Linked DNA regions of Homo sapiens: region 2 is linked to region 1. Evidence: fine-mapped expression QTL. A gene starts in region 1. The other region holds a variant in brackets. All regions are shown on one strand. Distances are from middle to middle.

Evidence for each region. PIP is the estimated chance that this variant, and not a neighbour inherited with it, causes the effect. A credible set is the group of variants that fine-mapping cannot tell apart.
Region 2: its variant is the best candidate, but not a certain one, in a credible set for the expression of DNAJC3 in whole blood (Lepik 2017, PIP 0.50).

The regions. Positions count from the first base shown.
Region 1 is chr13:95,675,580-95,678,489 of GRCh38, reverse strand. It overlaps DNAJC3 (DnaJ heat shock protein family (Hsp40) member C3), which reads right to left and starts at 1,351. Exons shown (of 12, transcript NM_006260.5): 1 at 1,153-1,351. The coding sequence starts at 1,234. DNAJC3-DT (DNAJC3 divergent transcript) reads left to right here and starts at 1,565. Exons shown (of 2, transcript NR_132117.1): 1 at 1,565-2,638. RefSeq lists silencers at 971-1,060, 1,291-1,530 and enhancers at 1,171-1,220, 567-1,413, 2,051-2,150, 1,414-2,261.
Region 2 is chr13:95,826,640-95,829,549 of GRCh38, reverse strand. The region is part of intron 38 of UGGT2 (UDP-glucose glycoprotein glucosyltransferase 2); the gene reads left to right. Among named protein-coding and RNA genes, the nearest start is that of DNAJC3, 150 kb to the right of the region's middle. The variant A/G (reference allele first, on the strand shown) is at 1,266.

The DNA of each region.
Region 1 (2,910 bases):
GTTGCCACACTACGTGTTCTGATTTGGGGTTCAAAAAATATGGTTACCAGGGGAAGCAAAAGCAAAAGCCCATTGCTATGGGTGACACCTAAAAACTGGGGAGTACTACTTTAAAAAAAAAAGTTGAGAACTTTCAGAAGAATTCACTATAAACAATTCCCAATTTTTAGTTCCTCGCTCCCTTTGAATGGAATACTCAAAGGTTTAATTTGACCTCCTTGACAACTAGCCCTTTTTATGGGGATGAAAATAGATCAGTGCATGTGATGTGTCATTACACTCGAATATTTCGCACAGTAACCGCGCCAGAAGCATTCGTTAAATCGGCACTATCAACTTTAATTCTTACTCCTCCCCGCTGCCATCTAAGATAGGACAGCCCTCTATTTTCGCTATTCTGGAGTAGCCAACATTCCAGTCTGCAGGACTGAAGTGAAATTTAATCGTTCGTATCTTTTTAAGGGAACCTTTTTACAGCGAACTTGGAAAAGTAATGCCAGCCATACGTTGAATGACACCATGTTGGGAGTTGTAAAACCACAAACTCAGTGCCTGGCCGTCCGGGAGATGGAATTCCAACAGCGGCTCCTCATTGCACCAAACTAACAATTTCTCTACACGACAGTGCATCTTAATGGGGATGGTTACACACTTTTTAAATAGTCAACACTGTCCCCTCCAACTCCCAGCCGGACATGACACTCCTTCCCCACCCAAGAACTCCAGAGCGAAGGAAGTCTTTTGGCCACCTTAGTGCCTCCTCCCAGCCAGCACCAATGACTGACAGTGTCCCCAGGCGCCCAGCGAGGGTCCCAAGCGAGGCCAGGACCCAAAGGCTGCCCAAGTCTCCGCGTCCCAGGACTTCCTGAAGTCGTAGCCCGGTGCCCCCGCACCCCGCCTCCTCCGACTCCTGCGGCCCGGTTCCTTAGTCCAAACCCGCTGTCCCGGCCCCGCGGCCCGCCAGTCCCCTCGATTCTTCCCCAGACAAACCCGGAACCGGGCGCGGGCTCAGGCCCAAGCCAGGCCGCGGGCTCCCCCAGCGCTCGCCCCACCTCCCGAGCCGCTCCGGGACAGGCGCCCGGGCGCAGACGGGAAAGCGCGGGGGGCCTGGTCCGGGAGCCCACTTCCTGGCCGGGGCAGGGCAGGACTCACCTTCGTACTGCAGATCCACCAGGACTAGCAGGAAGGGGAATACCGAGCCCAGCCGGCTGGTCACGGAGCCGGGGGCCACCATGTCCGAGGGCTCGCGAGTGAAGAGGAGGAAAGGTGTGTGGCCCACCAGCACGCGCCGGCGCTCCGGCAGCAGCTGCGCCCGCCCGCCGTCGGCTCTCGCTCAGGCCTCAGTGGCTCTGGAGCCCAGCAGAGGAAGGCAGCGGTGGGCGGGGCCCGGGCGACGCTACGCCCCAGAGCGCCGCCGCCATCCAATCGCCTTCTTTCTGGCGGCTTTCCTCCCGGGCTCGCCGGGGTCGTGGTTCGCGCTGATAGGCTGCGGAGGCCGCCGCCCCGCCCCGTCCCTGATAGGATAACGTGGAAGCACGAGACGAGGCTGCGCCCGCCGGTCGCAGAGCTGTCAGCAAGCTCCAAACCGCGGCTGCCGCCCGGAGGGAAGCAGACGGGGAGTCGGTGGCGGCCGCCGAGTCCGCATGCGCAGGCTGCAAAGGCCCTTTTGGGCCGGTCCCGCCGCGCTAGGTTGGCGAGTGGGACTATTTGATCCTTTCCAGGTTCGCCAGCGTGGTGTTACGAGAGGAAAGCGCAGCCGCAGCGTACGAATGGGAAGGCCAAACACGGTCCCGGGGAGTCTGAGGGAAGCTGCAGGGCGCCTGGAATTGGGGTCTCGAGTGAGCCGGTAAAAACCGCCTCCCGCTGAGCGTCCCGGAACAAATACTGTCTGAACTGAGCCGTAAGCAAGAAACGGTCAGGAGAAGCTGGGGCGATCTGATGATTAGAACATTTCAGGGACTACCAGAGAGAAGTGCGTAATTGCTCTAAGGCAGGTAGGTAATTGGCCTGGAAACTTGGGAACGCCCCGCCCCCCACCCCGACTTTCAGCAAACCACCGTGCCCAGGAAAAAGAGCGATTGTGGAAGACCCTGTGAAGAAGAGACCAGGAAGGCACTGTGGCTTAAGAGAGCAAGGCGTTCCTGAATGCAGCCAACATCAACTGGTAAACAAAAAACTGTGAGAACGGATCCTGAATCTTGCGCTTACCAGGGGAAATTCAGGAGAGATATGAACCTGAGCAAGATGAGGTTGAAGTTACTCAATGCGGCATTAAGCCTGTTCACGGCCACTTCCTCCGGCGTCACCAACACACACACTGTACACCAGCAGTATTTTTACACGGGGTATGTGTGTTAAGTACTATCAGGTGGATAATTATTACTTCACCTGTATTTGCTGCCTTGATACCATTAGAGAAACTCATGAATTATAAATAGCATAGTGAATTTGTGATTCCCTGAAGATATACTAAGGTGGACTTTTAAAAAGGCTTCTATTCCAAAGGGAACTAATATGGAGGAAATGGTTTCGAGAAAGAAAAAAGAAAAAACGGAGTCCTTGATTAGTTGTGGGGAAGGCAACATAATGTAATGTGAAGAATAAAGGAGTCAGATCCAGGAAACCCCATAACTATTATGTAAGTTATCTTCATCTGTAAAGTGGTTAGGATCCTGATAGTCTCAAAGGTTTGTTTTGAGGTTTCATGAAGCAGATAAATATTCTTGTAAATTGTAGAATGTTATACCAGTGTTACTCATTATTCTAACAAGAGCAGAGTAGTGAAGAGAGGCTCCTTCAGAAATTCCTTGGGATTTTTTTTTTTTTGGCTTCTGTTTTTTTATATCACAAGGTAGTGTCTCTGAAAAATGGTAGATGATTTCAATGTCCACAAATATGCAGGTGTAGACA
Region 2 (2,910 bases), 150 kb before region 1:
TGATTTGGCTCTCTCTTTGTCTGTTAATGGTGTATAGGAATGCTTGTGATTTCTGCACATTGATTTTGTATCCAGAGACTTTGCTGAAGTTGCTTATCAGCTTAAGGAGATTTGGGGTTGAGACGATGGGGTTTTCTAAATATACAATCATGTCATCTGCAAACAGGGACAATTTGACTTCCTCTTTTCCTAATTGAATACCCTTTATTTCTTTCTCCTGCCTGATTGCCCTGGCCAGAACTTCCAACACTATGTTGAATAGGAGTGGCGAGAGAGGGCATCCCTGTCTTGTGCCAGTTTTCAAAGGGAATGCTTCCAGTTTTTGCCCATTCAGTATGATACTGGCTGTGGGTTTGTCATAAATCGCTCTTATTATTTTGAGATACGTCCCATCAATACCTAATTTATTGAGAGTTTTTAGCATGAAGGGCTGTTGAATTTTGTCAAAGACCTTTTCGGCATCTGTTGACACAATCATGTGGTTTTTGTCTTTGGTTCTGTTTATATGCTGGATTACGTTTATTGATTTGTGTATGTTGAACCAGCCTTGCATTCCAGGGATGAAACCCACTTGATCATGGTGGATAAGCTTTTTGATGTGCTTCTGGGTTTGGTTTGCCAGTATTTTATTGAAGATTTTTGCATTGATGTTCATCAGGGATATTGGTCTAAAATTATCTTTTGTTGTTGTGACTCTCCCAGTCTTTGGTATCAGGATGATGCTGTCCTCATAAATTGAGTTAGGGAGGATTCCCTCTTTTTCTATTAATTGGAATAGTTTCAGAAGGAATGGAACCAGCTTCTCTTTGCACCTCTGGTAGAATAGGACTGTGAATCCGTCTGGTCCTGGAGTTTTTTTTGGTTGGTAGGCTCTTAATTATTGCCTCAATTTCAGAGTCTGTTCTTGGTCTATTGAGGGATTCAACTTCTTCCTGGTTTAGTCTTGGGAGGGTGCATGTATCCAGGAATTTATCCATTTCTTCTAGATTTTCTAGTTTATTTGCGTAGAGTTGTCTATAATACTCTCTGATGGTAGTTTGTATTTCTGTGGGATCAGTGGTGATATCCCCTTTATCATTTTTTATTGCATCTATTTGATTCTTCTCTCCTTTCTTCATTAGCCTTGCTAGCGGTCTGTCAATTTTGTTGATCTTTTCAAAAAACCAGCTCCTGAATTCATTGATTTTTTGAAGGGTTTTTTGTGTCTCTGTCTCCTTCAGTTGTGCTCTGATCTTAGTTATTTCTTGTCTTTTGCTAGCTTTTGG[A/G]TGCGTTTGCTCTTGCTTAGCTTGTTCTTTTCATTGTGATGTTAGGGTATCAATTTTAGATCTTTCCTGCTTTCTCTTGTGGGCATTTAGTGCTATAAATTTCCCTCTACACACTGCTTTAAGTGTGTCCCAGAGATTCTGATATGTCCAGGTTGCAGCAGAGAGAGAGGTTTAATCATAGGGCTGCCAAATGAGGAAACAGAATGAAAACTCAAGTCTGTGTCCCTGAGCAGTTTGTGACTAGTGATTTTTAAGGGTTTTGGAGGGGGCCAGAGTATGGAGAGCATTGATTGGTCGAAGAGTGCAAGGTGAAGTCGTGGTATAGGGAGATGAAGAAACTATATTCTCATGCTGAATTGGTTACTTTGTGGGGATCTTCAAACTGGTTGGTGTCAGCTGTTCTGCTGGAACTCACGATCTGCTTAGGCAATTCTTAAAAGCCTTATGATTCTGATGTCAGAAATCCCATCCACAAGAACAATGGGGATGCAAATGGTCAGTATCTAGTGCTAAGTAACTTTCAGTTACAAGGAAGTGGGTCAAAGTGCTGCCTGACTAATAGTTAACCATACTTCTGTCCAGAATTCTTGTTTAACTCTATAAGGATGGCTTGAGATATAGTATATCTTTTATAATTTACATTTCTCTTTTTCATTATATTAGTTTGCTAGGGCTGCTATAACACAGTTCCACAAACTGGCTGGCTTAAACTGGACATTTATTGTCTCACAGTTCTGGAAGCTGAAAGTCCAAGATGAAGGTGTCCACAGGGTTGATACCTTCTGAGGGCTGCGAGGAAAGAATTTAACACAGACGTCTCTCCTTGGTTTGTAAATGGCTTTCTTTTCCTTATGTGTCTTCACATTGTCTTCACATTCTCTGTCCTTGTTCAGTTAGGACACCTGTCATATTGGATTAGGGTCTACGCTTATGACCTTATTTTAACTTGATTTCCTCTGTAAAGATCCTGCCTCCAAATAAGGATACATTTGGAGATACCAGAAGTTAGAATTCTTGTAAATTTTGTGGGGACCAAAATTCATGTATTTTTGAAATATGAATTAAACCCATAACATGGGTGGAGTTAAGAATCTTGTCATATATTTAAAGGCCATTAGTATTTCTTCCGCTGTTCTTGTCATTTGCCTGTTTTTTTCTAGAGGATTGTTGCCTGACACTGGAAGAAATTAATTTCTGTTCCACACATTTGTATTGCCATCTTTATCATATATTAAATTCCAATATTAGGATGTCTTGTTTGGCCCTTTTTATTCCGTTCCATTGGTCTCTGTCTATACATGTGCCAAGTACATACCACTTTAATTATTAAGGACTTATATTATGTTTTAATATCAAGTAAGGCTAGCCTTTCCTTATTACTCTTCTTTTTTGTTGTTTTTCTGTGTATTCTTGTTTTTTTTCCATACAAGCCTTAGAATCAACTTAGTTTCAGAAAATTTTCTGTGTTTTTCTTGGGGGGCTGTGTGGGATGGTCAGAGAAAGGATTACATTAATTAGTTGGCTTGAGAGAATTGACATCTTCATGGAAACTACTGTCTCAGAATACATTGTCTTTCTATATATTCAAGTCCAGTTTTCCTCAAGAATCATAACATTTTAATCATATAGCTTATATATATATATA